4 separate regions of the Homo sapiens genome follow, and all the other regions are linked to region 1. Evidence: fine-mapped expression QTL. A gene starts in region 1. Each other region holds a variant in brackets. All regions are shown on one strand. Distances are from middle to middle.

Evidence for each region.
Region 2: its variant is fine-mapped to the expression of TCF25 in whole blood (TOPMed, PIP above 0.99).
Region 3: its variant is fine-mapped to the expression of TCF25 in whole blood (TOPMed, PIP above 0.99).
Region 4: its variant is fine-mapped to the expression of TCF25 in thyroid (GTEx, PIP 0.98).

Annotation. Positions count from the first base shown.
Region 1 is chr16:89,870,737-89,876,780 of GRCh38, reverse strand. It overlaps TCF25 (TCF25 ribosome quality control complex subunit), which reads right to left and starts at 3,189. Exons shown (of 18, transcript NM_014972.3): 1 at 2,922-3,189. The coding sequence starts at 3,113. SPIRE2 (spire type actin nucleation factor 2) reads right to left here. Exons shown (of 15, transcript NM_032451.2): 15 at 5,462-6,044. It overlaps LOC112268179 (a long non-coding RNA gene), which reads left to right and starts at 3,293. Exons shown (of 2, transcript XR_002957933.2): 1 at 3,293-3,813; 2 at 4,860-6,044. RefSeq lists silencers at 2,405-2,874, 3,345-3,464 and enhancers at 3,545-3,704, 3,475-4,431.
Region 2 is chr16:89,890,892-89,896,935 of GRCh38, reverse strand. It overlaps TCF25 (TCF25 ribosome quality control complex subunit), which reads right to left. Exons shown (of 18, transcript NM_014972.3): 6 at 4,661-4,743; 7 at 3,078-3,208; 8 at 1,799-1,898; 9 at 853-946. Among named protein-coding and RNA genes, the nearest start is that of TCF25, 20 kb to the right of the region's middle. The variant C/A (reference allele first, on the strand shown) is at 2,989.
Region 3 is chr16:89,909,713-89,915,756 of GRCh38, reverse strand. TCF25 (TCF25 ribosome quality control complex subunit) reads right to left here. Exons shown (of 18, transcript NM_014972.3): 17 at 5,094-5,166; 18 at 4,378-4,677. The coding sequence ends at 4,519. It overlaps LOC124903759 (keratin-associated protein 5-1-like), which reads right to left and starts at 4,098. Exons shown (of 4, transcript XM_047435031.1): 1 at 3,112-4,098; 2 at 617-2,525. The coding sequence starts at 1,656. RefSeq lists enhancers at 2,697-3,196, 3,197-3,698 and a silencer at 5,242-5,536. The variant G/A (reference allele first, on the strand shown) is at 3,113.
Region 4 is chr16:89,924,025-89,929,658 of GRCh38, reverse strand. The region is part of intron 1 of TUBB3 (tubulin beta 3 class III); the gene reads right to left. Among named protein-coding and RNA genes, the nearest start is that of TUBB3, 3.5 kb to the right of the region's middle. RefSeq lists a silencer at 3,061-3,720 and an enhancer at 3,487-4,387. The variant A/G (reference allele first, on the strand shown) is at 2,906.

The DNA.
Region 1 (6,044 bases):
ATTTTTTTGTACTTCTTTAGTAGAGGCGGGGTTTCACCGTGTTAGCCAGGATGGTCTGGATCTCCTGACCTCATGATCCGCCCACGTCGGCCTCCCAAAGTGCTGGGAATACAGGCATGTGCCACCACGCCTGGCCCAATTTTTGTATTCTTAGTAGAGATGGGGTTTCACCATGTTGGCCAGGCTGCTCTCGAACTCCTGACCTCAGGTGATCTGCCCACCTCCCAAAGTACTGGGAGCTGCAATTCCAGCACTTTGGGAGGCCAAGGCGGAAGGATCTCTTGAGCCCAGGAGTTTAAGACCAACCTAGGCAACATAAAGAGATCTTGTCTCTAAATAAATAAAATTTTTTAAAAAGAGAAACACCATGTCTCTCACCAATGCATTCACATTCATAACCATTTAGTCGTAACTGGCTGTTTACTGTCTCCCATACTTCTGTTTATTAAGAGCTATTTAACAGAATGCCAATAAACATTTTGATTATATTATTTCCAAATATGAGTTTTAAGAGCAAAAAAGTATGGAATGCTTAAATTAAGACTGATGTGTGCCACTGGATAAAATTCTCTGAAATTCCTAAGAACACAGCACGATAAGCAGTCATTCATCCATGGAGGCTGTTAGTGTTACTGACACTCAAACTCACTCCAGAAAGTCCACAAGGGTTTGTGTGGTTTCTGACCTTACAGACTCTTACTCTGTCAACTCATGAACCACACTTTTTCCAAATTCCCACCAACACAAATATAAATACCAAAAAGATTAAATATTTAAATGGGAAAAAAAAAGCATTAAAAGAACAAGCTGAGCATGGTAGGGTATGCTGTAGTCCCAGCTGCTCAGGAGGCTGAGGCAGGAGGATAACCTGAACCCAGGAGTTCAAGACCAGCAACCAGCCTGGGCAACACCGTGAGACCCTGTCTGTAACCAAAAAAAAAAAAAAAAAAAAAAAAAAAAGCCAGGCGCAGTGGCTCACGCCTGTAATCCCAGCACTTTGGGAGGCCGAGGCAGGCGGATCACGAGGTCAGGAGATCGAGACCATCCTGGCTAACATGGTGAAACCCCATCTCTACTAAAAATACAAAAAATTAGCCAGGCGTGGTGGCGGGCGCCTGTGTTCCCAGCTACTTGGGAGGCTGAGGCAGGAGAATGGCGTGAACCCAGGAGGCGGAGCTTGCAGTGAGCCGAGATCATGCCACTGCACTCCAGCCTGGGCGACAGAGCGAGACTCCATCTCAAAAAAAAAAAAAAAAAAAAAAAAAAACTCACGTCAGGGAATATCTATGTGAAGACACTCTAGAGAGATGGATGTGTAACAATGAGAAAAGTGGCTCCAGTATCTTTCAGCACGCAGAAATTAAAGAAGTTAAAGAACAAACACAAACCGAGAAAATACGTTAGAGACAATCGATAGCAAGCTTCCACGAGCAAAAAGACTGTCCAAACCCCCTATAAAAAGGCAAAGATATAAACAGGTTGTCACAAAGAGAAATATAAATGGTCAACGAATACATAGCTAGGTGCTGCATTTCACTACCAAAGAAGTGTAAAATAAAATAATGTGATATCATTTTTCACAAATTACATTGACAAAAATTTAAAAAGACTTACGGGGCCAAGCACAGTGGCTCATGCCTCTAATGCCAACACTCTGAGAGGCCAAGGTGAGAGGACTATTTGAGCCCAGGAGTTCAAGGTTGCAGTGAGCTAGGATTGTGCCAATGCACTCCAGCCTGGGCAACAGAGCAAGATTCCATCTCAAAACAAAAAGCTTTCAGTAACTGCTGTGAATCTAGCAAATTACTGAACCTTGACGGGGGTCTTGGGGACCACTAAAGGTGGACTTGATGCGAGAAGGGCAGTCAACCAAGCATGGTGACTCACGCCTGTAGTCCCAGCACTTTGTGAGGCTGAGGTGGACAGATTGTTTGAGCGCAGAAGTTCTAGACCAGCCTGGGCAACAAGGCGAAAACTCTTCTCTACAAAAAAGAAAAAAAAAAAAAATTAGCCGGGCGTGGTGACATCCACCTGTAGTCCTAGATACTCAGGAGGCTGAGGTGGGAGGATCGCAGAGCCCGCAGAGGCAGAGTTACAGACGGAGGCCAGGGCTTAGGAGAAAACGTCACAGGACCGCATGAGCAAACCATACAGTCAAACTGTTACTTCCCTGTGCCAGAAACGAGCTGCCGGAGATGCAGCAAAGAGTAAGACTAATCCGCTGGGTTAGGCTGATGGGGATGCGCGAAGAGCAAGGCCCTGGGTTAGGCAGAGTTGTTGTGAGGATTAAAGCAGAATGCTCGCAGAGGCCTGGCAAGTCCTCAACCCTGGAACCGAGAGAAGGCCCCTCTAGACTCGAGAAAGGGAAGCCCCACCCGACTCCTGCCCCTACGCCGTGGCCCCACCCCCACGGTGGCCCCAGGCCTCATTTAACCCCGCCCACGCCATCGCCTCGCCACCCCCCCGTCTTTAGCCACGCCCTTTAGCGTCACGGCCCCACGACAGCCACGTGGCCGCAGGCCCATTTAATCCCGCCCACGTCGTGGCCCGGCCCCGCGGACGTTGGCCACGCCCTTGGCATCAAGGCCCCGCACCCTCCACAACCCGGACCCCGCTTAACCCCGCCCATTCGGTCGCCCCGCCCCGACAGCACGGCCCCGCCCCATCCCTTAGCCCCGCCCACCTCACCGGGGTTAGAACCCAGTCTAACTCCGCGGCCCGCCGTCTTCACCCCACGCCACCGCCCACCCGCGTCGCCCTGGCCCCGACGCACGGCCCCGCCCTCCCCACTGCGGCTGGGACCCACGTCACCCTTCCCACCCCTGGCATCACAACCCCGCTCCCCGACCCGGCTGGACGCTCGCCCCGCCCCACAACGTCAAGGGCCACCCCACCCCCACCCGGGCCGCCGCGCTCCTCACCAGCTCGAAGCGGTTGTTGACTCGGACGCCCTCCTTCCCTGCGCCCCCGGGACGCCGGACACCAAGCTCCCGCTTGGGCCCTTCTTCTTCCGCGTCATCGTCATCACGGAGATCGAAATGCAAGGCGCCGGGCCCGAGGGGCTCCTGGCCGCGCTGTTCCCCCCTCAGCCTCCGGAGGGCCCGGCGCGACATAGGACCGAACGACCACGACGTCTGGAGAGAGGGAGAAGGAAGCGCAGAAAACTCGGCTGTCGGCGCGCCTGCGCACTCTTCGCGCGGGGTCGGGGGCGGGGGAGCTGGCTGCGCGCCTGCGCACTCTTGGCGCGAGGGGTGGGGGCAGGACCTGGCTGCGGCGCCTGCGCGTCGCGGCTCTCCGGAACTTTCCCGCTTCAGCGGCGGCGTCTGGGCGGGCTCCGGGGGGTCCGGGCCAGGTCTCTGGAGAGCTGGGTGTCTGCGCGCCGTGCGCACCGGGCATGGAGAGGTGCCCCGCGGGGATGACGGGCTTCGATTCGGGGTAACGGGCGCGCAGCCGGCGACAGTCGGCCCTGCCCGGCCTTGCCCATCCATGTGGCCCGGAACCCGCAGCCGCGTTCTGCCCGCCGGGGCCTGTCCCCGCACCGTGCCTGCAGCATTTCAGCTGCGTCCCGGACGTTGCTAGTTGGTCCTTTTCGTGTCAGGGTGTCATTCGAGTGATCTAGCCGTCGATGCCCGCCTCTGCCCTGGAGCCGCCGCCCCTCGAGCAGCATTGAGTGACGCGGCCCTTACTGCCCGCCCGAGGCCTCTTTAGGGACAGTGGTTCTGACAGTTCTAGGACAGGCCGCCCGCGTTTGTCACGATCTAAGGGCCGGGCGCGGTGCTCACGCTTGTAATCCCAGCACTTTGGGAGGCCAAGGTGGGCGAATCACCTGAGGTCGGGAATTCGAGACCAGGTTGGGCAACACGGTGAAACTCCCTCTACTAAAAATACAAAAATTAGCTGGGCGTGGCTGCGCACGCCTGTAATCCCAGCTACTCGGGAGGCTGAGGCTGCAGTGAGCCGAGATCGCGCCACTGCACTCCAGCCTGGGCGACAGAGCCAGACCCTGTCTCAAAAAAATGAAAAAAATAAAGTAGATGAGGCTGAGACAGTGCTGGGTTCAGTGGGCGGAGGGCACAGCTTCCTGTGCCTGGGGTTGGGGACATGGGGACAGGAGGGCATAGAGAAGACAGGTGCCAGCAGCCTCCTGCCCGACTTACTGCGGCTTCATGAGCACAAGCAGCAGCCCTGGTGAGCCGGCCTGGCCCCTCCCAGGATGGGTTAGGGTTTTATTTTATTTTGTGAGATGAGGTCTTGCTCTGTTGCCCAGGCTGGAGTGCAGTGGCGCAATCTCGGCTCACTGCAACCTCCATCTCCCAGGCTCAAGCACTTCTCCTGTCTCAGCCTCCCGAGTAGCTGGGACTACAGGCATGTGCCACCATGCCCGGCTAATTTTTGTACTCAGTAGAGATGGGGTTTCACCATGTTGGCCAGGCTGGTCTCGAACTCCTGACCTCAAGTGATCTGCCCACCTCACCCTCCAAAAGTGCTGGGATTACAGGTGTGAGCCACTGCACCTGCCGTGGTTTAGGGTTTTAACGTGGGCTTTCATTTCCAAGTGTTCCTGTATGAATTACAACCCAGTCTCCCCATGATAGGGAGTGTGAGTCCCCGTAGAACCAGAACAACCGTCGTCCTTACCAAGCACTACACATTAGCTTATTGCTGGCTGTGTGACCGGAGGAGTTCCCTGACCCTCTCTGTGCCTGTTTTCTTATTTTTAAACAGGAATAAAAATACAGGCCAGAGAGTCCGTGAAATGCTTACACGCATGCTAGAAGCTGGCTGTTTTTACTGGGGGCTCTAATTTTGTGTGTTTGGATTTCCTGGACCCCAGCTGACAGGAGTATTTTCTCCCGCAGGCCCATCAGTTACAAGTCCTGTCCCTTCTGACCTCCAGGCCCCACGGCTAGCATTACAGCCTGGAGTCAAAGTTCTGGGTGAGCTGTGTATCTTTGGCCAAATTCTTTGACCTCGTTGAGCCTCAGTTCCCTCATCTGTAAGGTAAGATGACGGCAGAACGTCACGGAGGAGCAGGGCAGGGCCCCGTTAACAGGCTGAGCCGGGCGCAGGTGAGCAGACAGCACTCGGCACAGGGCCTGTCTAGAGCCTGCAGTCACACCTCCTGCCCCTGTGGATCCTCTCCCTGGAGAACGAGAATACGGATCTGGGAAATGAGACCAAAGTACCCCCCAGGCCAGCAGGTGTGGCCAGAGGAGCTGATGGGCAGTAGTCTGTGCCGTCCGCATGCAGCCCTGACCATGGTGGCCAGGACCACGAAGCTGGTAGAGGCAGCCAGGGCTGCGTGGACAGAGCAGGCCTGGAGCCCTTGCCTGGTGGGCACCTGACTCTAAGCCAGGAGGCCTTTCCTCGTCCTGGAAGGCAGGTGGCCCCTCAAGCCCAGCTTCAACCTTGGGAGAACATGCCATGCTGGGTGAATCCTCAGCGCACATCCCAGACAGAAGACTGTGAGACCTCCTTTATTAGGCCAAGAGTGGCCATGTGCACAGATTTACAGAGCTGCTCCTCCCTGTGCCAGGACCGCCCAGCATCTTCAGGAGCCTCTGGGCCAGGGGCGAGTGAGGACAGCACCAGAATGTGGTAGGGCCAGGAGAGGCAGGACACATGTGGTTTGGACCCCAGGGAAAGGGAAAGGGCAAGGGCAGGGAGCAGCTTGGCACGGACCTTTTTTTTTTTCGAGACAGAGTCTCGCTCTGTCGCCCAGGCTGGAGTGCAGTGGTGCAATCTCGGCTCACTGCAACCTACACCTCCCGGGTTCAAGCGATTCTCCTGCCTCAGCCTCCCCTGTAGCTGGGATTACAGGTTCCTGCCACTATACCTGGCTAATTTTTGCATTTTCAGTAGAGACAACATTTCATCATGTTGGCCAGGCTGGTCTCAAACTCCTGACCTCAGGTGATCCTCCCTCCTCGGCCTCCCAAAGTGCTGGAATTACAGGCCTGAACCACCACGCCTGGCCAGACCTTTCAAACAGGTGGGGGTGCCTCCCAGGAGGACCCTGCCTACTCAGAGACTTCCCAGATGCC
Region 2 (6,044 bases), 20 kb before region 1:
TACTCTCGCCTCAACCTCCCAAGTAGCTGGGACCACAGGCACGCGCCACCAGGCGCAGCTAGTTTTTAAAATGTTCTGTAGTGGCCGGGCGCGGTGGCTCACGCCTGTAATCCCAGCATTTTGGAAGGCCGAGGCGGGTGGATCGCAAGGTCAGGAGATGGAGACCATCCTGGCCAACACAGTGAAACCTCGTCTCTACTAGAAAATACAAAAAATTAGCCAGGCGTTGTGGCACGTGCCTGTAGGCCCAGCTACTCGGGAGCCTGAGGCAGGAGAATGGCTTGAACCCGGGAGGTGGAGCTTGCAGTGAGCCGAGATCGCGCCCCTGCACTCCGGCCTGGGTGACAGAGTGAGACTCCGTCTCAAAAAAAAAAAAAAAAAAAAAATGCTGTTTTGAGACTGCATGTTGCCACGGTGCTCAGACTGGTCTTGACACCTGGGCTCAAGCAACCCTCCCACCTCGGCCTCCCAAAGTGCTGGGATTACAGGCGTGAACCACTGTGCCCAGCCAGGCTCACTTCTAACACAAACATTTATTTTTATTTTTATTTTTTTAAGAGATGGGGGTCTCACTATGGTGCCCAGGCTGGACTTGAACTCCTGGGCTCAGCAGACCTCCCACTCTGACCTCCACAGTAGCATCAGGCATGTCCACAGACAAAGGTAAACCTGGGCTGAGACAATCCCATCCCTCTATCCTTAAGCCCAGAGAGAGGAAGGTGGGTCACTCTGGACCTGTGGGCCCTGGTCCACCCTGGAGGGCAGCCATGAGGTGCCCACTGCACCTCCCCCAGCCTCACTCGCAGGAGAAGGGAAGGGGAGCTGCGTCACCTCCAGGGCAGCTGCACTCACCTGTTCTCGGGTCTGCGGTAATCCAGCCGGCAGGCCCCACTGGTGAGACTGAACAGGGGGTGGAACGCACATTCCATGCTGTACAGCGCTCTCTCTGTGGGCACAGGGACGCCAGGGGAGGGTGTCATGGCCACACACAGCAACCACGGCCCCTCCTCTGATAATGGACAACAAGGAAAGGTCTGGACGGAAGGTCACGAAACTAGAGTCCTGGACACTGAGAGGGCAGACATGCCCCTGGGCACCCTGGATGCCACGCTGCATTTATTTCAACCACAGAACTTGTGAGCTTGACATGGTAACACTTTCAACACCATGAGGCACAACTGCTGCCACGTCCTGACAGAACCAGGCGTCCATGTGTGCAGCACAGATGTGTCCACCTAAGACTGCGTGTGCATGCTGACGTAAGCACTATTATTTACAACAGCCCACACGGCCGTCAACTAATGATGGATACACAACATGTGGTCCGTCCACACAGTGGAGTATTACTAAGCCATAAAAACGAACGACGTTCTGATCGACGCTACAGTGAGGATGAACCTTGAAAACTTCATTGTAAATAAAAGCCAGAGGGCGGGGCGTGGTGGCTCATGCCTGTAATCCCAGCACTTTGGGAGGCTGAGGTGGGTGGATCACAAGGTCAGGAGATCGAGACCATCCTGGCCAACACGGTGAAACCCCATCTCTACTAAAAATACAAAAAATTAGCCAGGTCTGGTGGCGGGCGCCTGTAGTCCCAGCTACTCGGGAGGCTGTGGCATATATTAAACACCAACAAACAAAAACTTTAAATGGGTAAGTTTTGTGCTACGTAGGTTGTATCTCAATAAAGCTGTCATGGATATCCTGGCAACCCCTGTCATCTTACACCATCGCATCTGTCTTGATAGCTTGAGGTGCTCCCACAGCTGAGGGGAATGGGGTGGGGGCTCTGCCTTACCTACGAGGTCTCGAGCCATCTCCTGATCCTCTTGAAAGCGGCAGGCATCGCTGAGCTGCAGGAGTGAGTCAACGTGGTAAGGGCTCGTCTGGAGCAGAACCTACCAGAAGGGAGGACAGCCCTGGAGGAAAGGCACTCAGCAAGGCCCCAGCTCCCAGGCATGCCTTTTTTTCAGACATTTAAAACCAGCGGAGGCTGGGCGCAGTGGCTCACGCCTGTAATCCCACCACTTTGGGAGGCTGAGGCAGGAGGATCACTTGATATCAGGAGTTCAAGACCAGCCTGGCCAACGTGGCAAAACCTGGTCTCTAATAAAAATACAAAAATTAGCCGGGTGTGGTGGCGTGTGCCTGTAATTCCAGTTACTCGGAAGGCTGAGGCAGGCGAATCGCTTGAACCCGGGCCGAGACTGCGCCAATGCACTCTAGCTTAGGCGACAGAGTGAGATTCCGACTCCAAAAACAAAAACAAAAACGGGGGAATTACCGGGTCGACACTCACAACGTCCCCCCAACTCAAAATAGGCTAGTTATTATTGCTAAGCTGAACCAATTATATGACTTAAAGCAAGAACTCAGAACCTGACATGCCCAGGCCAGGGGCCACCTAACTCCCCACTAAGCCCCAAGAAAGAGGAATGGAAAGCAGCAGCCTGCTTTTCCCACAGGGAGATGACGGGGAGCTCTGCGGAGGCTGTCCGGGGTTGCAAGGGGAGCTGTCCGGCGGCTGCGTGAGGGCCGCCCGGGGGCTGTCTGGGGCTGCGCGGGGGCCGTCCGGGGCTGCAAGGGGAGCTGTCCAGGGGCTGCATGAGGGCTGTCCAGGGTTGCACCGGGGCTGTACGGGGACTGTCCAGGTCCGGGGCTGTCTGGGGCTGCGCGGGGGCCGTCCGGGGCCGTGTGGGGGCCGTCCGGGGGCTGCACGGGGGCCGGGAATCTGAGCTGCTCGCCTGCACTGAGCCGCAGGAGGCAAGGGCAGCAGTGAGAAGCCCCAGAGTCCTGGGCCTGCATCACACGGCACTACTGCGACGGTCCCCAGGAACGGCTGAGAGAGCAGCGCTCCAGCCTCTCCTCTGAGTATGGATGGAGCTCGCTTGGCCTAGAGCCTCCGAACACATCTCCTTCTGGTCACAGGGCCAGACCGCCCTGCAGAGACTGGCACCCTTCCTGTTGGGAAGGGCAGGAGGCAGCATG[C/A]CTCCCCCAGCCACCAGGGAAGCAGGCGGCCCAGGGCAGTGGTGGCTACATGGCCCCTGCTCCTGTCAGGGGCTGCAGGGACCACGCACCACGATGTTGTTCGGCTCCATAGACTCCACGGCCACCAGGAACTTGTGCTGAGCCTGCTGGTACTCCTCACTGTGCTCAAACGCAAAGAAGGAGAGGCCTTTTTTTGATTCCAGCAGCCGCATGGACAGACCTGGGAGGGGAGAGTGCTCAGGGAGGGTGTGCCGGGAGCAGGGACGTGGGCAGCTCCGAGCACAGCCCTCACCTTCGTGGTGTTCTGGATGAGGCCTCTGCGATATCGACAAACTTGACCTGAGTGTGTACTCATGGGTGTCACCAGCTCCGGACACCTTCCCAAAACACCCGCCGTCTGGTCTACACCAGGAGACGGCATCCCGTCTGCTTTAGTTTCCTATCAAGACGTGTTTGCCTCCAGAACTCGGATACAGCTCTAGCCCCACTGGCCTGGAGGGAATGTCAGGGACAAGGACACACACAGTCCACAGATCGCCAGATCTGACCACGCCGAGCACTGTCCCCAGACCACGTCTGATTGAGGAGAATGTCCGGGGTGGCTGTGGAAGGACAGGGTTGGAGTGCGGTGGCACAGGTGGCCACAGCGCCAGGCCTCTGAAGCCACAGAGCTTTGTAACGTGTGACCACCCTCTCACTTGGCTCCTCTTGTCTGACTGGGTGTATGGGACCCAGTTTCTTCTGATAAACCTGGAAAGCTCAGCCTCCCAGGACCTCCATGGACTAGGTCCCCTGTAGTGATACCTTCTTGATGGCCCTGCCCAAGGCCCCAGTCCTGCAGGAATACATGGCCATGGAACCCCTGTCTGCAGTGAGCAGGGGTTCCTGCCAGGAAGGGAAGGGGCCGTGAGCAGCGGGGTTCACCTTCTGACAGCACAGGCCTCGCTCCTAGATGTGTCCTTACAGAATGTATGCAGGCAATCTCCGGCACCCCCACAGACACAGGCGCAGGAGAAGCGGCCGTGGGAGCCATGGCAGCGCTGACAGCAGCAGCCATGCCGATCACCAAGGGCACCACACAGCTCCCTTCCCACAAGCTGTCCTTGCCCTGGCCCCTGAGGGCCCCCACAGTTCAGCCACTGCAGAGTGGAGGCCAGTGTGGAAGGCCTCCTGACACTTCCCCACACCACACAACCAAGCACCCAACACTCCATGCCTGTCTTCACTGTTGCAATTCATCTTAAAATCACTTATTAGTTTGCAATAATATACAAAATATTGCAGTTTAAAATGAACTCGATTGCTTCCATAAGGGAAAGGTCGATGGCAGAATGGTAGGAAGAACCTGCGTTAAAAGACAGTCACACAAAGACTGTGCCTGGGAGGCTCCGTGTTGAGGTACTGGGCCAGGCCTCCAGCACTCAGGCCCTCAGTGTGGCAACAAACAGTCACACACTGCACACTCCTGGAGCGCTCCTGGAGCAAAGAGTCTCGGCTCAAGAGGCACTGACGCCCCTGGTGCCCAGCGCAGGCCAGTGCACAGAACACACCCCCCCGCCGCCCTCCACCCCCAGCAGCCTCTGCAGACCCTCACCTGGTTTGCTGTACCGGGGCCAGTGCACAGACAACGCCCCCCAACCCTCCATCCCCAGCAGCATCTGCAGACCCTCACCTGGTTTGCTGTAGCGGGGCCAGGTGCTTTTAGGGGTGGTCAGCCATGTGCACTTGGGGTACACACGTTGTCTCTGCCGTGGCCTGGGGAGAACGGGACACAGGTACAGCTTTACTTCCTGTGGCGTGTGGGGACCAAGGCTTGGCTGCCTGATCCCTGCACGGGCTGTGGAAGCAAAACTGAGGGGCAGAGAAGGCATGTGGGGCAGGGTGGGGACGCATTAAGGACAGGATGCAAACAAGCGTCAGCAACTGCTGTGGGACGGGTGCAGCAGGGAGGGCCCCATAGAGAGAAAGAAACAATTCTGGCTGGGCACGGGGGCTCACACCTGTAATCCCAGCACTTTGAGAGGCCAAGATGGGAGAATTTCTTGAACCCAGGAGTTCGAGACTGGCCTGGGCAAGACAGCAAAACCCCATTTCTACAAAGGGTTTTAAAAATTAGCCTGGCGTGATGGCCTGCACCTGTGATCCCAGCACTCCAGCCTGGACGACAGAGCAAGGCCCTGTCTCAAGAGGAAAATAAAAAAAGAAAACGAAAAGAAAGAGAACAACGTACTAATATCCACATGCCCATCACTCAACTTAAGAAACCAACCATCTCTGAGGTAACAGCAGCTCCATGCCTTTTCCATGCTGCCCCACCTGCCCAGCTCAGATACCAGCTGACCAGTGCTTAGAGTGGGCCTGACCCCTGTGGCAGAGACCCCCAAATAACAGAGGTCAGGGCACTCTGCCTGAGCACACAGGCACCAGACAGGTGGGGCGTGGCAGCCGCGGCAGCACAGACAGCAGCAGCCATGCCCACGGTCACCATCAGCACGGTGCAGCTCCCTTCCCACGGGGCCATCCCTGCCCTGGCCCCGGGCTCCCCACAGTTCAGCCACCGCAGAGTGGAGGCCAGTGTGGTGGGCCCTCCTGACATGAAGGTGGCCCCAGCCTGCTTCTCCTGCCTGTAGCACACGCCCAGGCCTAGGAGAGTCAGCCCTTCAGCACTCTCCTGGGCCAGATGTACAGAATCCCAGGGATGGCCTGACCTGCGGTGAGCTATCCCACAAAACAAGTAAGGAAGCCTCCAGAACAGACCCAACGAGGCAGCCTGGGCAGATGCCAGGAGGGGGCAGGGGACAGGAGCCTGGAGGAGCTCTGAAGGCTGGCAGGCGCCCTGAGCAATGGGAGGAGTGTGCTGAAGTGCGGGGGCGATGAGCTGACCGGGCTGTCGTAGTAGGAAGTCAAGGACCCAAGAGAAAGCAGTGCCTGTTATTCTGAGCTTCTGAGAGAACCACCAGAAGGAGAAATGGAAACAGGCCAGGTCTTTGTCTTGGAGGAGCAGGACAAGGAATGAATAAAAAGGAAACTGTGGCTTCTCCATGTAAGTCTTTTGG
Region 3 (6,044 bases), 39 kb before region 1:
CAAGGTGTGAGAAGGCCAAGCCTCTGCCTCGGGAAGGAAGACGGCTCCACTGGTGTGAGGGCCGTGGCTGTGTCCCTGCCCCAGGAGCACCCCCGACGTCCACAGCACCTCACAGACCCAGACCCAGAGCCCGCTCACCTCTGGCCATGAACCAGTGAGCAGCCCCTGCCCCAGAGCACTGTCCCCTCACATTTCAAGGACGTTCGTGTTTGCAGCTCCACAATGAGGCCTTTGAGACGGACGGCGGTTAACCCCAGCCTCCACTGCTACCCCCCAGCCCGGGACTTGAAAGGGCATGAGAACTGGGCAGCCTTTTTCGTGCCAAGATGCAGCTGGAGGGCATCGGAAGTGGGGTGACCCTGCCACAGGACTCCCACTGTGGTTCCTCACTGGATGTGCCTGTCGGGGCTTCGTGGGAAGATGAGGCACAGCCGAGCTGCAAAAAGTCAACTTTTTGATGTGTTATGGTCATGGGGGAGATAAATTAGCCTCGGGATGATCTGTGATTAGATGACATCCTACAGCTAATCATATCTCGATTTTGGTCTCTTAGTGCCCCTGGAAACACTGCATGCTGAGTGGCCGGAAGACACGTGGGGCTGGCCCATCCGCTCACCAGGGTCCCCGCCACAGGCAGAGGCACCGTTCCTGCAGAGCACTTTCCATCCAGGTGTTTCTGGACCAGCGACCCACGAGGAGAATGAAGACAGACGTCTTCCTGCGTTTATTCAGTGTCTGGCATCCAGGGCCTGCAACACACACACAGGCACACACACACACACAAATGTGCACCCACACACACAGGCACACACACACACAAATGTGCACCCACACACACAGGCACACACACACAGGCACACACACACAAATGTGCACCCACACACAGGCACACACACAAATGTGCACCCACACACACAGGCACACACACACACAAATGTGCACCCACACACACAGGCACACACACACAAATGTGCACCCACACACACAGGCACACACACACACAAATGTGCACCCACACACACAGGCACACACACACACAAATGTGCACCCCCACACACAGGCACACACACACACAAATGTGCACCCCCACACACAGGCACACACACACAGGCACACACACAAATGTGCACCCACACACAGGCACACACACACACACAAATGTGCCCCACACACACACAGGCACCCACACACACAGGCGCACACACACACAAATGTGCACCCACACACACAGGCGCACACACAAATGTGCACCCCCACACACAGGCGCACACACAAATGTGCACCCCCACACACAGGCACACACACAGAGGCACACACACAAATGTGCACCCACACACAGGCACACACACACACAAATGTGCCCCACACACACAGGCACCCACACACACAGGCACACACACAGGCACACACACACACAAATGTGCACCCACACAGGCGCACACACACACAAATGTGCACCCACACACACAAATGTGCACCCACACACACAGGCACACACACACAAATGTGCACCCACACACACAGGCACACATGCATACAAGTGTGCACACATACATACGTGCACACACACACACAGGCACACACACACACACAAATGTGCACCCACACACACAGGCACACACACACAGGCACACATGCATACAAATGTACACACATACAAATGTACACACATACATACGTGCGCACACACGTTTACCCACACACGCGTGCACATACAAATGTTTACCCACACACGTATGCGCACACACAATGTTTACCCACACACGTGCACACACGTGCACCCACACCACATGCGCACACACACAGGCACACACAAATGCGCACCCACCCACACACGCACACACACACACATCTGCTCAATGTGTGCCCGAGGGCTGCGAGAGGTAAAACATCTCTGTGGCCCAGGGAGTGGCCTGTCCAGCTGCGGCCACAGACATGGAGGTGGGGGTCACCGCCGGACCAACAGTCCCACCGTGGTGGGCTCCAGTACAGCTCCCCAGGACAGCTGGACCCACAGCTGATCTCAGCCCTTGGTTCAGGGACCATTTCCTTTGAACTTGGGGGTGGGGGTGTGGGAGGTGGCAAGCAGGGTTTCTCGTGGGCTCACCGTGGTGCCTGCATTGAAGGCTTTGGGGGGTTCTGGCTCAGTGGAAAAGGGCCCGGCTGGTGAGCCACGCTGCCTGTGGGCACCCGGGGAGCCACGTGCGCCTCAGCCTCTCGCTGGGCTGAGCAGGGCCAAGGGAGGAAACAGGACAGCATTCCCCACAATCATGGCAGAGGCTACGCCCTCAAAACAGTCTTTCAGATCTCACGGTCATTGGAAGTAGGCTCAGCTGCAGGTCATGACATAAACCCCAGCACCACTGCCAAAGTGTCAGTGATCCAGCCACCTCTCAGGACAGCAGGCCTGGGCTCAGCCTCTGCTGCATTGTCCCTGGAACACCGGCTCTTCTCTGACTCCCAACCGTAGGGCGGCTGCTGCAGCTCCAAACATCACATCCCCTATTTGGGTGGACTCAAGGCATCTGGAATGGAAGAGGCAGGGGACCCAGGTCTCCTTGCTAGCCTGTCATTTTCAGAGAAAAGACCCTGAAGACTCTAGCAGACTCCCGCATCTCGATGGCTGAAGCTCACCACGGACCACCCTGGCTGTGGAGGGTGGGGACCTAGAGCAGACTGGGGTTATCTCCCAACCATCTTCCCTGGAGATGAGTGCAGATCCCCCATGGAAAAAGGGGTGGGTGGGACACCAGGAGGACCAGCCTGTGCTCCCCACAGGCTCCTGCTGACCACAAACATCGTTCACTCACTGCAGAGAGGAACGAGGCCGCAGCACCAACTCCCCGCCCCCATGATCTCTTCCTGCAGAGCGTGGGGCTATCACAGCTGGGACCTCAGGGCACCGCTCCTAGAAATGGCCAGCACAGGGCCAGGGCTGCACCCTCAGGCCCACGTCTGAGATGGGCACACGTGGCTCAGCCCTCGGGCCAACTCTTGTCATGGACACTGGGCCCTCGTCGTCCTGGGGAGGGTCCTGCACCCTAAGCTCCCGCCCAGGAAATGCTGAGCAGAGTAAGGAGACACCAGGAACTGCCAAAAGGATGAACTCACA[G/A]GCCTCGGCGAGCCCCAGGTTAGACGATTACACAGTGATGGGCTTTCTGGGAGGTGGGTCCACGGACCAGTACCTAGCTGGGGCTGGAACATGTTTCCTGCCTCACTGGCCGCCCTAGAGCCTCGGGCAGCCCCTCGTGTCTGCTGCCTCCTAAGGGTAAAAGATTAGGGCGGTGAGGGGTGCCAGGGGACAGGACCCCTGCTGCAGCCCTAACACCTTGGTGTTCTCGATCCTTCCAGAACCACGCTGGCTTCTGATGCTGTCTGGCTGCAGCCTCCGCCCCTCCTGCAGCTGCAGCACCGTGGGGCCGTGGGATGCACGGGTTCTGTGCACCATCAGTCAACTGTGCCAGGACCTGCTCCAGCTAAGCCCTCCCCCAAGACTGGGGTCTTGGTCCGAGTGGCCCATTCACCCTCAGACCGACTATCCCCTGATCTTTGCTACATGGGCCCTCAGAGCTTCCCTGGGCACTTCTCTGCAAAACATGCTTCTGGGGCTTCGCCTTCAATTCTGGGCACTGCCCTCAAGTTCTCTAATAAAATTATTTTGGCAGAGCCAGGCGCGGTGGCTCACAGCTGTAACCCCAGCACTGTGGGGGGCCAAGGCGGGCGGATCATGAGGTCAAGAGATTGAGAGCATCCTGGCCAACATGGTGGAACCCCGTCTCTACTAAAAATACAAACATTAGCCAGGCGTGGTGGCGGGTGCCTGTAGCCCCAGCTACTCGGGAGGCTGAGGCAGGAGAATGGCGTGAACCCGGGAGGCGGAGCTTGCAGTGAGCCGAGACTGCGCCACTGCACTCCAGCCTGCGCGACACAGTGAGACTCTTGTCTCAAAAAAAAAAAAGAAAATTATTTTGTCAGATTCAACAGATAGTGGCATCCAGCCAAAGGACCCCAACATCTCCACCCCACTTGCTTGGAGGAACAAGACTGAAGGCCGGCTGCCACATAGGGGCCTCTCTGCTCCAGCCCTGCCCTGAGACCCTCTACCAACAAGGCACGCAGCTCTGTTGACGAACTCCACAGCAAGTTCAAGGAGGACGTGCACCCAGGGCCTTGGCATTCAGCAGGGACCTGCACTGAAGACCCCGTGGGGCCCCTTCTCCACCCGTGCCCAGATCCTGGGAGCACAGGAAGCATGGGGTCTGGGCCCCACCTCACCCACAAGCCACTGGGAGGAGAATGGACTGAGTGTGATTCGAATCCGAGGGCATGGGACGGCGCTCAGTGCCTGCGAAAGGAGAAGGTGCGGACGGCAGAGCGTGACCCATTTACATTTATAGGAGAAACAGTGGACCAGGGAGCGACACACTCAGCTTCCCTACTTCAGGCAACTGGCCGACTCCGACCAACAGAGAAATCGGGAACATCATCATACGGCTTTTCGGTCACCTCTGCGGACGCTCAGTCCCACTCCCCCTCCCCCTCAGCGTCGTCCTCGTGCGGCGCCTCCAGGTCGTTGAGGTGGAAGTTGGCCATCATGTCGCGCACAGCCAGCATCAGCCTGTTCAGGCCCTGGTTGCGGTTCAGACCCCCAGCCACTCCTTCCTCGGGCCTCTCCCCCTGCAGCAAGGGGACATGTCTGAGAAGGGGGCTGTCTGTGCTGGGACTAGGGGCCCGGGGCCCAAGCAGGAGGCACTGTGGAGCCCGAGGTGGCCCTTGCCCCAGCACCGGACCCTGAACCCTCCCCAGGTCCCTGTGAGGAGGAAGCTCTCAAAACCAAATGCCGTGTCTAGACCAAGCCAGGCACAGAGTGGGATCAAGCCGGCTGACTCACGGCCCTGCATCTGCTACCATCTGGGCAGGCCCCAGTTTCCCCGGCAGAATGGGCACCCCACTGGCACAATGCAGCCTTGGTCCTTCCCTGCTCCCTGTGCCGGCTGGCACAGTCCTGGTTCAAGGAGGCTCCAGGCATTCGCACTGGAATGGATATGCCCGCACCCACTGGGGAGGCAGGGGCTGGGACGAGCTCAACCTACCTCCATGGTATAGTTTGGCAACAGTGACCGGAAGAAGAGAGCAATGGTGTTTCCATGGCTGATAGGACTTAGCCTGAAAGAAAGTCAAGAAAAGTCAGAAACGACACTGAACTGAGACTCGTGGGACCCAACCCGGCTCACGGGGCTGCCTGCCAGCTGCCTCCCTCGCAGGGACACGGAGGGGCCGCCAGGGGGCAGAGCAGCAGCAGCTGAGCACAGGCCCTGGATTCCCCGGGTGGCCCGTGAGGCTTCCTCATCAGCTTAGGGTGGGGCTGTGGACAGCGGGAACAGGATGAGGGAGACCAACTCAGCTGAGGCAGGCGTGGCGTCCGGAGCGAGGCTCCCACAGCCATCCTCGGCCACTGCACAGGTGCCTTGCTTTTCAGAAAAGCTGCAGTTTCAACGTCTCCTTCAGCACCCACTCCTTACGCAAAGGCAGAAGCTTCCAGGGCCTGCGTTAAGCGGAGACCCTCACGGTGCGAAGGGCTACCGGCCCGGCTCTACAGGACGCTGAGCGGCCAGGCCTCAGGAGCTCTAGGGAGGGCGAAAGCCTGGGCTCCACAGCGGAGGGAGGCAGCAAAGAACCGCGATTCCTCAATGCTGCAACACCCTGCCGGCAGGGATAATCACGACGACCGCTGTGCGGGTGACGGGGCCTGGGTAAGGCAAGTACTTTCCAGCCCAGAAGGAAAAGGTAAAAAGCCTTTCAATGACCCGGATTCTGAAAGCCAGACACACCGGCCGCCTGGCAGTTGGCCCTCTTGCGCCGCAGCCCTGCTCTCCCGGTCTGGCCATGGGGCTTTTGTTCTCTCAATGTGCCGTGTGCTCTGCTCCTGGCACAGGGCCTCGGCACATCGTGACTCTGCTGGGGAACACAAGGACCCTCTCCCCTGAGCCTGGTGAGGGCACATTCATCCTCTCCGTCTCAGCACAGCCACCATCCTTCCTCCA
Region 4 (5,634 bases), 53 kb before region 1:
GATGTGTGGAAGGCTGTGCCTGGGGAGGGGCCCCAGACTGGGAGGAGCTTCTTCTCACGGGTGCCCTGTGGTCTTGTTGAGATTTTCTCACGTGCACACGGTAGCTTTTCAAAGAAAATTTGTTAAAAATAAATGTTTTTAAAACCTTAAGAATAAACATAGTGTAATTATTGTAACGCGGACAGCATGGACATGGACCACCTCTGCTAACAGTGTCTCGGGATGCCCGTTCACCCTGAGACTGTTATCAGAGGTGCCCGTTCACCCTGAGACTGTTATCAGAGGTCATCTCTCCACAAAGGTCAGGGGTGGATTTCTTTCCATCTTTTGTGCATTTTTGTTATTGCTAAGTTTTATTCTTTTTGCGTTAAATTTTTAAATTACAAAAATGATTCAGGCTGGGTGTGGTGGCTCATGCCTATAATCCCAGCACTTTGGGAGGCTGAGGCAGGCAGATCACTTGAAGTCAGGAGTTCAGGACCAACCTGGACAACAGGGCAAAACCCTGTCCCTACTAAAAATACAAAAATTAGCCGGGCGTGGTAGCGCGCACCTGTAATTTCAGTTGTTTCAGAGTCTGAGACACGAGAATCGCTTGAACCCAGGGGGCAGAGGTTGCAGTGAGCTGAGATCAAGCCACTGCACACCAGCCTGTGGGACAAGAGTGAAACCCTATCTTAAAAAAAAAAAAAAAAAAGGCCGGGCGCGGTGGCTCACGCCTGCAATCCCAGCACTTTGGGAGGCCAAGGCGGGTGGATCACGAGGTCAGTAGTTCGAGACCAGCCTGACCAACATGGTGAAACCCCATCTCTACTAAAAATACAAAAATTAGGCCAGACGCAGTGGCTCACGCCTGTCTGTGGTCCTAGCACTTTGGGAGGCCGAGGTGGGCGGATCATGAGGTCAGGAGATCGAGACCATCCTGGCTGGCACAGTGAAACCCTGTCTCTACTAAAAATACAAAAAATTAGCCAGGCGCGGTGGCGGGCACCTGTAGTCCCAGCTACTTGGGAGGCTGACTCAGGAGAATGGCGTGAACCTGGGAGGCGGAGCTTGCAGTGAACCGAGATTGTGCCACCGTGCTCCAGCCTGGGCAACAGATAGAGACTCCGCCTCAAAAAAAAAAAAAAAAAATTAGCCAGTGTGGTGACGGGTGCCTGTAATCCCAGCTACTCAGGAGGCTAAGGCAGGAGAATTGCTTGAACCCAGGAGGTGGAGGTTGCAGTGAGCCGAGATCACTCCACTGCACTCCAGCCTGAGTGACAGAGTGAGACTCCATCTCAAACAAACAAACAAAAAAATCAGCTGGCCATGGTGGCTCATATTTATAATCCCAGCAGTTTGGGAGGCCAAGAGAGGTGGATCACTTGAGTCCAGGAGTTCAAGACCAGCCTGGGCAACATGGTGAAACCCTGTCTCTACCAAAAAACAAAAAAATTAGTTGGGCATGGTGACGCATGCCTATAGCCCCAGCTACTCAGGAGGCTGAGGTGGGAGGATCACTTGAGCCAGGGGGGTGGAGGTTGCAGTGAGCCTAGATCATGCCAGTCCAGGCGACAGAGTAAGAGCCTGTCTCAAAAAAAAAATACAGAAAGGTCCCTGAGGCATTTGGGGCTTGTCCAAGCTTCCCACCTACTGCTTGCCTCCCTAACACTCTCTTTGAGGATCCCCCATTAATTTAGTTGCTGGCAGTCCACTTGAGTCGGGGACCTTGCTCCCCAAAGCACTGGGACACCCCAAATTTATGGTTCCAGGGAACCCACAACCACCAGCCCCTGTAAAGGAGGGGTGGAGAGAGTAACACATCTATGGGAAGTCCTCTGCAGAGCGAGGCACAGGGCAGCAGGAGCAATGGAGCAGAGTGGATTCAAGACCCAGCACGAGCACAGCTGTGGGCCAGGCGCGTGCCTCGCAGGACCTGTTTTCTCATCTGTGAGATGAACGTGTGAATGGTGCCCACATCCAGGCCTTAGCACAAAGCTTGACATGAAAACATTCAGCACATGTTGGCTTCATTTTGTTCAAATGTTTTAGATACTATTTAAAGTTTTAAAACCATATGCACAGGTCACTTAAAAAAAATGGACCAGAAGGATAGAAAAAGAAATTTGTTCCCACTTGGATAGAGAGAGGTGGCTAGATGGGCACCAGGTTTATCTGCAATATTTAAGGTTTTTTTTAACCAGGAGAATATATTAATTGCTTTTGTAGTTAAAATTAATAAAATTATAATTTGAGATAAAGTAATAAAATATATTGTTCCTTTTTTTTTTTTAGATAGGGTCTTGCTCTATTGCCCAGGCTAGAATGCAGGGGCATGACCTCAGCTCACTTTAACCTCTGCCCACCTCCCCCAGGTGATCCTCCCACCTCTGTCTCCCAAGTAGCTGGGACCACAGGCCGGCGTGCCTCCATGTCCAGCTAATTTTTTTTGTTTTTTATTTTTTGTAGGCACGGAGTCTTGCCATGTTGCCCAGGCTGGCCCTGAAGTGCTGACCTCAGGTGATCCACCCACCTCGGCCTCCCAAAGTGCTGGGATTACAGGTGTGAGCCACCGCACCTGGCCTATGTTACATATTTAATAAACAATAAAATATAATTTTATAAACTAAATTGTTAACATCACTACAGAAAAGGAAATCGGCCCGGCGTGGTGGCTCATGCCTGCAATCCCAGCACTTTGGGAGGCTGAGGCAGGTGAATCACCTGAGGTCAGGAGTTTGAGACCAGCCTGACCAAGATGGAGAAACCCCATCTCTAGTAAAAGTACAAAATAAGCCAGGTGTGGTGGCGGGCGCCTGTAATCCCAGCTACTCAGGAGGCTGAGGCAGGAGAATAGCTTGAACCCAGGAAGTGGAGGTTGCAATGAGCCGAGATCGCGCCACTGCACTCCAGCCTGGGCAAC[A/G]AGAGCCAAACTCCATCTAAAAGAAAATAAGAAAAAAGGAAAATTGTGGCCAGGCGTGGTGGTGAGCGCCTGCGGTCCCAGCTACTCGGGAGGCCGAGGCTGCAGTGAGCCGAGATCGCGCCTCTGGACGCCAGCCCGGGCGACAGAGCCAGGCCTCCTCTCATAACCAAAAACAAAAACCTGGAAACACAAAGCAGAACCCGGCGTTCGAGGCCAGGCGCTCGGCCCGGGCGCTGTCCTTGGTGCTGACCTCGCGCAGCGCTTGGGGTCCTGGGGAAAGCGGGGCCGGGCTTTGAGGGCAGTGGCCAAGGCAGGTGGGAGCGGGGGTCCCCGATGAAGGGGCTGCGAGACTGGGGCCTCCAAGCCCCTCCAGGACCCGAATGCGGTTCCCGCCCGGCCCGCGGCTCCGCAGGTCTTTCAGGCGAGAGGGCGGGGCGAGCCAGGGACTCCGCCTCCCATTGGCTGAGACGGCCAGGCCCCGCCCCCAGCCCCGCCCCGCAGCCGCGAGGAGGCGGTGCCGCAGCCCGCGCGGAGGACAAAGGCTCCCCCCTCCGCCGCTGCAGGCGAACCCCGCCCCGGGGAGGGAGGAGCACAGGCCCCAGGAAAGCAAAGCCCGGGGGTCCAGATTCAGCTCTGCGGCAGTGGGGCAGCGTCCTGTGTCCCGCGGGCCCCGGTGTTTCTGCATAGCCCGGCCCGCCCCTGCCCCCCCCGGGGTGACTGCAGGCGGCCGCTCGGCTTTCCGGGCTTCGGGTTTTCTCATCCTCCCGGCGGGCTGCGCCCGGCTTACTGCATCCCCGCGAGCTGCCGGGGGCTCGGCTCCCAGCGCAGGGGTGACCGCGGTGAGTCGTCCGCGCTGCCGCGTGACCGCCCGGGACCCGGCTTTGCTCCCGGCCTCGAGTCACCCCGACTTCCCTCTGCCCAGAGTGCACGGGCCTTCCTGCCCAGCCAGGCACCGCCCGAGGACCCCAGACAGGGAAGCAGCCGCGTTGCACCCCCTATCAGCTGCGGGAGTGGAGGCCGAGAACGGCCAAGGAACTTCCCATTGATTCCACAAGGGCAGCAGAGCAAAGGAACACGCTCTTGCCGCCCCCGCCCCCGAGAAAATTTCCTTCTCTGTTGCTTTCATTGTTAAAAAGAATCAGATACTATTATTACTGTGAGACAGGATCTCACTCTATCGCCTAGTCTGGAGTACAGTGGTGCGGTCATAGTTCATTGCAGCCTCGACCTCCCACGCTGAAGCAATGCTCCCATCTCAGCCTCCCAGGTAGCTGGGACTACAGGCGCGGCCCACCACGCCAGGCTAATTTTTTTTTTTTTTTTTTTAAGAAACGGAGTTTCACCATGTTATCCCGGCTGGTCTTGAACTCCTTCGCTAAAGTGATCCTCCAGTTTCAGTCTCCCAAAGTGCTGGGATTACATGAGATTCCTCATCCACCGTGCCCGGCCAGGTATTAATTTTTAAAAAGAAATATATTAAGAAAAAACAAACAACTCAAAAGGAATAAAAAGTAGCGGGCAAACTAAGAGCTCCAGTGTTCAGAAGCAGAGCACAAGGCAGCCAAGGACACGGTCCAGGGGACAAGGGCTCCCTCTGCTACCCGTGGAGCCTCAGGGGATGTCTGCATGTGCACCTGACTTCTAGATCCCAGCTCTTGCCTGACAAGTGCCTTGTGGGACCACAGCTCTGGGCCCATCCCAGCCATAGAAGGAGAAACCCCAGGTGGGCCCCAGGGCTGCCTGCCCTCCCTCTCCCCAGAGACCCCTGACCCTCCCAGGAGCCCCAGGGCTGCCTGCCCTCCCTCCCCCCAGCGACCCCTGACCCTCCCAGGAGCAGATGCTCAGGGGAGGCTTGGCCCCAGTGACCACATTAATGAGCCCTCAGCCCCTCCCATCAGGCCAAGGCAGCTGTCAGAGGCTGCTCCGGGAGTCCTGGTTTGATTTGAGGCCACTGTCCCCCAGGTCTCCCCTCCCCCAGGCTCTCCTTGGCAGGCACAGCTGTCTCCTTGGGTGATTAGAGTCTCCCCACTACTGGGCCTCCCACCCTCAGAGGCGCCTCCACCCGGAGCCAAAGTTGCAATTTACATGTCAGCCACGTGGCTGGCCCTGTTGTAATTAGCTTTTTGTTCCTGCCTGGTTTCCATGGCAACAGCCTCCGGAGGCTGCCTTTCTCTGGCCCCTTCCCCTCCAGGACCGTCTCCTGCACCCCCTCCTTCCCAGAATCAGCGCTGCACCAGCCCTGAGCTGGGTCCCTGGCCTTGGTCCTGACAAAGCCAGCCTCCCCCCCCGATCCCCTGTTCCCCAACACTGTTCGGAGGGCAGATCCTTTGGCAAGCAGCGCCCCCAACCCGCCCCGCCCGAGCCCCAGGTTGGCTCCTGCAGGGGATGAGAACCAAGGGCCAGCCCAGCTCTCTCGCACCTGCTGTGTGACCTTGGGCCAGGGACAGCCTCCCAGGACCAGGGGACACGACGTCCCCTTAATGATTTAGGCAGGGGTCCCTGCACAGCTGCACCAACGCCCCTTTCTGCGTGGCCCCAACATCTGCGAGGTGGGCTAACAATGGAGGGAGGGGCGCGCCACGGTGCAGCCTCCACACCCCACAGCCCGGCTTTGTTCCCACATCCAATCCCCAGACTGGTAGACCCTGGGTGGGCGCGGTCAAGCCCCGCGGGGGTTGCCCAGGAGCGGCTGCGCCGATGGAGAGCCTGGTCCTGGACCAAGGTCATCT